2 separate regions of the Homo sapiens genome follow, and region 2 is linked to region 1. Evidence: fine-mapped expression QTL. Tissue or cell type: whole blood. Region 1 holds a variant in brackets; the other region holds the start of a gene. All regions are shown on one strand. Distances are from middle to middle.

The links. PIP is the estimated chance that this variant, and not a neighbour inherited with it, causes the effect.
Region 2: TMEM181 starts here. The variant in region 1 is fine-mapped to the expression of TMEM181 in whole blood (TOPMed, PIP above 0.99).

Annotation. Positions count from the first base shown.
Region 1 is chr6:158,431,355-158,436,698 of GRCh38, forward strand. The region is part of intron 3 of TULP4 (TUB like protein 4); the gene reads left to right. Among named protein-coding and RNA genes, the nearest start is that of SNORA116, 110 kb to the left of the region's middle. The variant G/A (reference allele first, on the strand shown) is at 2,920.
Region 2 is chr6:158,557,162-158,562,161 of GRCh38, forward strand. It overlaps TMEM181 (transmembrane protein 181), which reads left to right and starts at 2,930. Exons shown (of 17, transcript NM_001376852.1): 1 at 2,930-3,071. The coding sequence starts at 3,064. RefSeq lists a silencer at 2,621-3,540 and enhancers at 3,960-4,461, 4,462-4,961.

The DNA.
Region 1 (5,344 bases):
ATGTCTTGGCTTCACATTCTTCCCTCGCCTAGAGTGATGGAACCCATGAGCCATCTGTGAGGCTCATCTCATGGTCCTCTGATGAGTTGTGCCAGCCAGTGTCCCCAGCAGACTGTGCACATGTAGGACAGGCAGGGGACCCACTGGGGATACAGCAGTGAGAGAGACGCAGCTCTTGCCTTTGAGGTACAATTGGACCTGTTGAGGAGACAGACCTCTCCTTACACAGAATCTGCTGCCGTGGCTTGGCAACGTGTGGAGGAGGACTTCCCAGGAAGGGCTGGCTGTGACTCCCAAGTCGAATCTGGGGTACGTTGTTCCAGGCAGCCCAAGCAGAGTTCCAGGGTATTGACACCATGGTGTGCACGTACCACAGGGAGTGGTTTCCTGCTGCCGTGGAACGTGAAGGGGGACTCCTGGGGCTGGAGGAGTCGGTAGGACAATGGCCATGGGAAGCATGGAGGCCATGCTGACGTGCCTGGCCTTGAGTCTGTAGACCTTGGCGTGAGGAAAGAGCTGATGTGGCAAGCAATTGGGTACGTGGCCGCAGCCTCTGTCCTGATGACTGCTTTTACTAACAGGTGGGATTTTGTTCTAGGAAAGCGCCCCCACTGCCTTTAAATAAAATGGTTGCAGCAGGGTGCCTGTTGTCTCAGCTAGTCAGGAGGCTGAGGTGGGAGGCTCACTTGAGCCCAGGAGTTCTCGAGACCAGCCTAGGCAACATAGCAGGACCCCATCTCTGAAAAAAAAAAAAATTAAAAAAAAAAAAAAAAGGATTTGCAGGTCACTGAAGCAATAAGGACCCTGGGAAAAATTTACCACAGAGAACATGTGTATCAGGCACTCAGTCTTGTTTGAACTGAGACATAGAGCAGGAATACTCCTCCTCCTGTCTCTACCACTCATTCACATCTCTTGCTTGGTTTGATTTTATCAATGAAAAAAGAGTCCATAGACAGGTTGTGGGCCAGCCTGATGTCTGTAATGTCAGGAGTTGGATGTGGAAAGCGCACCCCTGCAGCTCAGGGGCTCTGAACGGTGGACATGAAGGTAGAGCTGCAGGAAGCCGGATGAGTCTCTTCCTGCTTCCCTGAGAACTTTCTGCCTTTAATGTGAGTTAAAATAGCTTCCAGGAGTAAACCTCTTCCTCACATCTTGAGCTATATTGGATTATAGTGGGATTTTAGGCTACTTCCTGTCAACTTTAAAAAATATAAGCAGTGCATGGCTGGGCACGGTGGCTCACGCCTGTAATCCCAGCACTTTGGGAGGCCAAGGCGGGTGGATCATGAGGTCAGGAGATTGAGACCATCCTGGCCAACATGGTGAAACCCCGTCTGTACTAAAAATAGAAAAATTAGCTGGGCATAGTGGCATGTGCCTGTATTGTGCGCTGTTTTGCCAACTTTCTATTATGAATATGTTCAAATGTACAGAAAAGTTGAGAAAATAAACCTTCCTGAAACATTTTGCCATATTTGCACTTTTTCCTCACCACTCCCCACTTTTTTGTAGTTCTTGTTTTTGAAAGTAAGTGGTAGACATCGTGGCACATCACCCTTATATATTTCAACATGTGTTTCCTGAGAATAAAGCCTTTCACCTGCACAGGCACCCCTAAGAAATTAGCAATGACATTATCTGGTATCTAGGCTACCTTTTTATTTCCCTAATTGTTACAGGAATGTATTTCATAGTCTTTTTTGGTTTTTTGGAACCAGGATCCAGTTTAATTCATGTACAGCAGTTGGTTGTTCTGTCTCTACAGTCTTTTAGTCTAGAACAGTTTCCCGTTTTTTAAATTGACTTTTTCATGAGGTCAGTGTGGCCACCTTACACGCTGTCCCCACACTCTAGATTTGTCTGATTGTGTTTACTTATAGTATCATTTTCCTTCCGGCCCTTGTATTTCCTATAAACTGGAAGTTAAGTCTAGACTAGAGTTGGAGTAAACAATTTTGGCAAGAATACTTTAAAGGTAACATATTCTTTACTCTGAACCACACTAAAAAGTGTATAATGTCTCATCCTAGTCTGAGGGTTGCTGAGTTTAATGGAACCTTTGTAAAAACAAAAGTTGCTAGGCGCAGTGGCTCACGCCTGTAATCCCAACACTTTGGGAGGCCGAGGCAGGTAGATCACGAGGTCAGGAGATCGAGACCATCCTGGCTAACACGGTGAAACCCGTCTACTAAAAATACAAAAAATTAGCCAGGCGTGGTGGCACGTGCCTGTAGTCCCAGCTACTCCGGAGGCTGAGGCAGGAGAATTACTTGAACCCAGGAGGCATTGCAGTGAACCGAGATGGCGCCATTGCACTCCAGCCTGGTAACAAGAGGGAAACTCTGTCTCAAAAAAAAGTTATTTTTCACAGCATGTTGTTAATGTCATCTACACTTAAACAGCTGATTTGTTCAAAGGATGTGTTTTACTTCAGGCTAAAATTCATCTTCCATTAAATTGCAAGAAGGGAATGTAATCCTACCTGGAATTTATTTAGTGGGTGAGGACTCTGTATTAGTTTGCTTGGGCTGCCATGACAGAATATCACAGACTGGGCGGTTTCAACAACAGAAGTGTATTTCTCACAGTTCTTCTGGAGGCTAGAAGTCCAAGATCAAGGTGTTGGCAGGTCTCATTTCTCCTGAGGCCTGTCTCCTTGGCTTACAGACACCTGCCTTCTTATTGTGTTCTCACGTGGACTTTTCTCTGTGCACCCACATTTCTGGTGTCTCTTCCTCTTCCTGTAAGGACACCAGTCCTGTTGGATTAGGTTCCCACCCATATTACCTCATTTAACTGTAGTTACCTCTTTACAGGCCCCATCTCCAAAAATAGTCACATTTGGGGTTCAACACATTTGTTCAACAAAATTCAACATATGAGTTTTGGGGCACACAATTCAGTCCATAATAGACT[G/A]ATAGAAAATATTTTGGAGAATATAAAAGTTACAGAAGAAATAGTGATATAAACTCAGCTTGATAAACTTAGGATATATTTGTAAATAGAACAGGTTTTATAGGGCTTGGGAGCAAACCAGAATGACACAAAGAGAAAATGTCAAATAAATATAAGTATGACTGGGAAAAATATCTGGGTCCTAAGTTGACGCAGAGTAATGCTGCAACAGTGAAGCTTTTGCAGTTCTGGAAACATCCAGCATCACAGCAGGGTCTGCCAGAGCGAATGTTTCATTGTCTGTGTTCTCCTTGGGTTTAGGAGAATACCTTGCCCCTTGATATGTGAAAATTATTTGAGACGTTGACATTTTGAAATATTCTTCCAGCATGTTTTGGATCTTAGCTAACTGTCAATTCACTTGGAAAGCCTTTCAACTAGAGAATGCAATGAGAACCTGAGCTGTGTTTCCATGAAAAAGGTTGACATGCTGATATGCCACCCAGCATTTCCATGCTGAGTGTGGTCCTCCTAGGGCGGTGACCAGCTGATGTGCCTGAGGCCACTGAGGAAAGGTCAAAAGAAGAGCCCCAAACTTCAATTTGAGACTCCAGTTTAAATGTGGAAGAATTTTGTGGTAACTTCTGAATGAAAGTTACCACATACATGAAATGGCATGGGAAGAAGACTCTCTCCTTGTTCCTGCCAGTCTGGGGGAGCTCCAAGAAGCAGCCCCCACACGTTTCTCTGCTGTGGGAGACAACGGGCTCTGCCCAGAACTCTTCCCAGGCTGCGGCTTTGTCCCTGTGTCATCTCTGATACCCCATCTCCAGAGAGCTCCTGCAGTGAGGCACATACATAATATGGGTGCATGAACCATTTTTTAAATCATCTTAAGACAATTTCAAGGCGTTAAAGCTTATGGAAGTTAGTGACACCCATTTCCCCCCACAGTCAGGGTAGCCCCCTGTCCTGGGTCAAGCAAAGATGAGTATCTTGTGTATGTCTTCCAGGCATTTGCAGCTTCCCTCCCCAGTCAGTGGTTCCTGTTTCTTGCCCCAGGAGCCACAGAGCATGCTTCTCTCTGGGCTCTTGGCCTCAGATGCGGTCTCCTTGGCAGCCTGGTGCTTCCATCCTCTGCTCGGCTACCTTGGTTGGCGTCTTCTGGACCCTGTCAGCACATCCAGGCACGTCCTTTCTGCAGTGCCTCTCCCAGCTGGATCTTGCCTCCTCCTCCCATCGCTGTCATCTCCCTCCCCGGCTCTTACATGGCATGCCTTTCCATCCAACTCGGTCCCCCTTCCTAGGTTCCAACCTCAGACCTCTCCCCTTTTTTCCATCCTTTGGGTGATTTCCTCCATTGCCACAGCTGCATCAGCTCCCATCTGTTTGCTGCTGGCTCCCCACACCTATCCCGCGCTCATCGCTCTTGTCCTTCACACTGCGACACCATCACCGTCACCACCACCACCATGCTTGCAGAGCAACTCCGGATAGACGTAGACGTTGCTCAAGTCCACTGTGGTCTGAACTTAGCTTCCTCTCCCCCCTGCCTCTCCTCCCTCCGGTCCCTCATCTGCACTCTTATCTTGCTTATCATTTATGCCCTAAACTGGGAATTGCTCATCGTTTGTGCCCTCAACTGGGAATCCTTTATCCCCTAAACTGGGACTCTTTTTTTTTTTTTATTTTGAGGTGGAGTCTCGCTCTGTCGCCCAGTGGCACGATCTCGGCTCACTGCAACCTCCGCCTCCCGGGTTCAAGCGATTCTTGTGCCTCACCCTCCCAAGTAGCTGGGACCACACAGGCATGCGCCACCATGCCTGGCTAATTTTCGTATTTTTAGTAAAGACGGGGTTGGCTAGGCTGGTCTTGAACCGCTAACCTCAAGTGATCTGCCTGCCTCAGCCTCCTAAAGTGCTGGGACTACAGGTGTGAGCCACCATGCCCAGCCTGGACTCTCTTTTCTGTACCTCCAACCTTCACTTAGTCACCAGGTCCTGTTGATTCCACTTCCTATGTTTCTATCTGAGACTATTTATTTATACTTAAAGTTTATAGATGATTGTGCTCAAACCAGCTTAACTGAAAGTATTTAAGGTTTCATGTAACTTGACCAGAATGTATCACTTGAAGGGAGGTTAATGGTTCTCCTGAAATACAGGTACAGGTATACTTCACTTTATATAGTGGATGAAAGAATGTAGGTAAAGTGAGTTTTTGAAAACATGATTATATTTTAACTACCCACCTACAGGAATCTCCCTATTTAAAGAATATTCTATAGAAATTGCCCTTGTTTAGAAGGCAGTTGTTTTTGAAATGAGAATTCTTCACCTCATACATGTTTTTGCTAGCAATATCCAGATTTTAGTTTTCCGGGAGTAGAGGTAATATTTCTTTATAAATACTAAACCTTTTTAAAAGGAGGGAGTCTTAAATCTGG
Region 2 (5,000 bases), 130 kb after region 1:
CCCAGGAGTTCAAGACCAGCCTGGACAACATAGTGAAACCTTGTCTCTACAAAAAATACAAAATTAGCTGGTTGTGTTAGTGCACACCTGTAGTCTCAGCTACATGGGAGACTGAGGCCGGAGGATCTTTTGAGTGGGAGGCAGAGGCTGCAGTGAGCCGAGATTGCGCCACTGCATTCTAGCCTGGGTGACAGGGAGACTCTGTCTCAAAAACAAACAGGTCATGTGAGAAATGGCTGATAGATCACACCAGGCTTCTTAGAGCCCAGAATAGTTTGGGTCCCTTTCCCCTTTTCATAACATGATCATAGCACCTTTCATTTCCTTTTCTATCACAGCTGTAATTATTTATTTATTTATTTATTTATTTATTTGAGACAGAGTCTTGCTCTGTTGCTCAGGCTGGAGTGCAGTGGCGTGATCTTGGCTCACTGCAAGCTCCACCCCCTGGGTTTAAGCAATTCTCCTGCTTCAGCCTCCCAAGTACCTGGGATTACAGGCACCCGCCATCACGCCCAGCTAATTTTTGTATTTTTAGTAGAGATGGATTTCGCCATATTGGCCAAGATGGTCTTGAACTCCTGAGCTCAGGTGATCCCCGCCTCACCTTCCCAAAGTGCTGGGATTATAGGCGTGAGCCACCATGCCCATGCCCGGTCAATTAAGTAATTATTTAGGTTATTGTTTGTTCTTGACTAGAAAAGGACAGGGACCTCATCTGTCTATTCGTGTTGTGTTTCCAGAGCTGAGAGTTGTTCCTGGCACACACACACTGCTCCATTAATGTTTGAAGAACAAATAAATGAGAAAACGAGTATGACGGGAGAAGAGGAGCTGAGGGCCATGTGGTTGTTCACATCCTTGAAGGAGTGTTGGGAGAGGGCTCATGCTGACCTGGGTGACGCTGGACAGCAAATCCAGGGAGATCTGACAGGAAGGAATTGCCAGGAGGTAGTTTGGAGTCAAATGCACACAGTGAGGGCCAGGGGTCCTCGGGGTGGTGACAGTTTCCTCTCGCTGGAGATGCCTCAGGAGAGACCAGGCAGCTGGCACAGAGCAGGGATTTCCACATCATCTCATGCTGCTCTGGGCTGGAGGTAGATACTGGCTGCCTCTAGGCAAATGTGGCCAGCAAATGTGCTTTGTTTAGTCCCTCCCAGGGTTTAAGATATTTTTTCGAATTAGTTTCCAACATTTTAGAATCAGAAGTGTCGAAAGACAAAATGACAGCAAATTTAAAGATCCTAAGTAGCTTTTCTTCATGATTCTAGAATCGGGCAGCCCTCAGAACCAACAGGTTCAAAGGACTTTGGGGCTGCAACGTGGTTAGACAACATTTATGGACAGAAAGTGGAACTGAGGCGCAGAGACAGCTTAACTGGTTACAGGTTTATGTTCTAGCTTATTTGAATCAGCTAACCACCTGCCAATGACAGAAGCTCACTGGCTGTGATTGGCTGAGACTCAGCTGTTTGTTACAAAAGCATCCTCCTCAATTAGGGTGTCTTCTCTTTTATGTTAACTATGCCAGGCTGCAGCTCCTTATGTAAGGACTCAAGTAGGGAGGCATCCTCAGGCCTAAACATTTAACAGAAGGTGTTGCATGAAAACGCATGTTTGGGCTGGTTGCGGTGGCTCACGTCTGTAATTTAACAGGCTCCGGGGTTGGGGACCCCTGCTCTAGCTCATAGAACTCCCTCCGACTCACCCCTTCCCGCGCCCCACGTCCCTGTGAACAGTCTGTCCCTGCAGGTACCCAGTTTCTGTTCTCCGGTCTTGTTGCTATGAAGAACCCTTTCCCTCTGCTTATGTATGAAAAGAACTTAAGAAATAATCTTTTGTTATTCCTTGAAGAGTTGCGGTTTAGGATTCAGAGCACTAATGAGATTTTGTGTAACTATTCCTTGGTGTCCTGGCTTAGGGTGTGCTTTGCTTGGTATCTCCCCCTTTTAACCCCCCTCTTCCTAATATCCACCTCACCCTCCAGATTCAGCCCAAACTCTGCATTCTGTCCCCTACCTTCTCCACTCCCCCAAGGCGAGTTAGGCACCCTTCCTCACTGTAGCACCCTGAGCTAAGGCTACCTAACTTACTGTTGGTAATTTTCTTTGCCTGTAATTTCACTGAGGGCAGGAACTGTTCCTTATTCATGTCCACACTTTTCTGCCAATAGTAAGCCTGTTTACAGTTTAGTGAATGAATGAGGATACATTGCAAAGGAAGCTTGGAAGTCCTTTATTTAACTCATGCAGACCGACTTTAAACCCACAGCACACGGGAACACGGGACATTTTGAGTAATGCTCCAAAGAGAATCTCAGAAATAGCCAAACCTTGGTTCTCATCCATTCTTGATTACAGAAATGGGGAACACTGAGCCAAGATGCGAAATCAGGAAAGTGCTTTTGGTCCACTGGTCTAGCTGCAGTCTAGAAGCGGCTTGCGGGAGAAGCTACCAGAAAGAGCCCGGAAGGTTCCTGTCATCATTCGGGGTGGCAGAAGTTTGTCCTGGCTTTTAACCTTTTTTGGGGTCACAAGACCCTTAGGGAATGAATATACAGCTATAGCTCCTCTCCCTAGAAAAATGCAGACACCCATAGTGTTTTCCAGACAACTGCAGGGCATTCGTGGACTCCCGAGGCCCATCCTTACGCCCCGACACTCGGGAAGTAGGAGTGAATGAATGCGCTGTTTACCTGCCCTAGGGACAAGAGGTAAACTAAGTCATTCATTCACTCATTCCTTCTGTCTTGAGCCCCAGCTCAGGGCTAGCCTGGGTGCTCCCGGCCGTGGGGCTCCGCCCCGGCACGGGGCCACGAAGGAGGGCCACCCCCCTCGCCGCGCGCCCGCGGCCCCGCTTCCACCGCGCCGCGCCCTCTTCCGCCGTGAGAGTCGCTTCCGCGCACGTGATCTCGGCGTCGCGCTCTGATGAGTTTTCCGCGGCCGGCCGCTGCTCAGCCGCTGTCGCTCCGGCTCCGGCTGCGGCTGCCGCTGCCGAGGCTGCTGCGCGGCGCCTGGCGGGCTCGGGACGCGCGGGCCGGGGCCGAGGGCTCTGGGCGCCGAGATGGAGCCGTGAGTCCCCGGCCGAGCGGGCGGGCTGGCTGGCTCTCCGGACACTCCGGCCGAAAGTTGGGGATCCCTGGCTCCCGGCGCCGTGCCGCAGGGTCCCTGGCGCCCACGTGGAACTGGGGGCAGGGAAAAGGGCGCTGAAGGGGGCTTCGCGGGCGGGTCAGGCGGAGGTGTTTGCGCGGGGCGAGAGTAGACCGGGGCCGGGGCTCCCTCCTGCCTGCCCGCCCGGCCGCGGTTAGAGACCGGGATGCGGTCGGGGTTCCGGGACGGGGCTGCGAGCCACAGCGCTCACCGGGGGGCCGAGAGAACCGGGGGCGCTGCGGCCCTTCCCCGGCGTAGGGTGGCCGCCCGCACGGAGTCCCGCCGCCTCCCGGGCAGCCTCTCCTGCCGGAAAGGCCCCGCCCCGTCGTCCCCTCGGTATCGAGAGCGCCCCGCGCTGCCCTGCGGTCTCGCCCAGCGCCGGGTGCGAGGCTCTCAGAGGCGATTGGTGACGTGGGCACCGGGGAGCCTGCCGCAACAGCCCCTTTGGACTCGGGGTGTCGAGTTATATGAGTTTTATGCGTTTTACGATCTGCTGACTTTGGGCTTTTTTTTTTTTCTTTACCTCTTTGAAGTCCAGGGTTTTTAATGAGGAAAAACCTGTTTGGGGTCTCGTGGACGCCATCCCTAAAGCTTGCTTTTGACCCAGCAGTCGCCTAGGTGTCCCCCTGGGCGCATCTGGAAAAGAAGGAGACGGAGTTAACCAGAGGGTTAGCGCCGCGTGGAGTTGCAGAAAGTCCGGGAGAAGGAGTGGCCCATATGTGCAGCCGCGCCTGGCGCAGGAGGCTTCCAGGGCCGGCTCCCTGCACTGAAGGCAGCCTCCGAGGGGCCTGGGCGCGCTTCTTGGCTTATATGCGGTTTTTGAGGCAGAAGGGTTTTGCTTTGGATCTTTGCTGATTTCTCTGGCTGTGGACGTGGTCAGAGAAGTGACACCCAGGCCTGTTGCCTCAGCGCAAGTGCCTGTGACAGAGAGATCTGTTTTTCCTTCTGCTTCCTTAGAAGTTTCTGACTTTGGTATGTTGCTTTAGCACCTCTTGGGAAACTGGAATGGCATCAAATATCAGACCTATGTGGATGTTTTAAAGATTTTAAAAGCCAAGTGGAGGTAGGTTAGCAGTATTGCCTCTGCACAACTCCAGAGGGCAAGATTCTTGTGCGGCCTATGTAAATAATACTGCTTGGAACGGTGTCTTGTGGAACTGTGGCCTTGTAGCAGAGTGACAGCTGCGTGTTACAGGAGTTCTCTCACGCGCTGCCCCTTGGAGCTGCATAGGTGGGCTGGGTGTGCTTTTTCAGTAGGAGAGAGGCCGGGGACGTGAGGTGGTGAGGGCCTTGGCCAGGACAGGGATCTGGGTCTTCTGCCAGGGTCCTGCGCTGTTACAGGACAGGGAACTAGACCAAAGAAAGCAGTTGACCAAGGAAAGGTCCCGAGGAGGACAAGCAAAACGCAGCTTGAATTTTGTGCGAGTTTGAGGCCTCCCCCTGCAGCTGTAAGCGCTTTGTGCCTCAGGCTCTGTGGAGCACTAAGAGGGTTAGGGAAGACGGAGGGGGATGAGGGTATCTGGAAATCAGCCCACCACCATCGGCCAGCATTCCAGGCACCTACCTGGAAACTGAGAAGAGTTTGGTAGCAGATAAAATCCTCCTAAAAAACAAGCCTGAAAATCCGAAGTGCGTCCTGGACTTAGGTGACTGAGTGTTCTCTGTCCTTGTCTGGTGTGCCTGAGAGCCCAGAGGTGAGAAAGGTGAGAAAGAAGAGAAGTCCAGGGAAAGAATGGGAGAGAACAGAGCCGCTTGGAGGAGCAGGGGCAGCTCCACCACTCTGCTTACGGTGTGTAGGGGACCGTCCCCCTGCAGACCCTGGCCTTATGACCTCTGACTCTCATTCGGCCC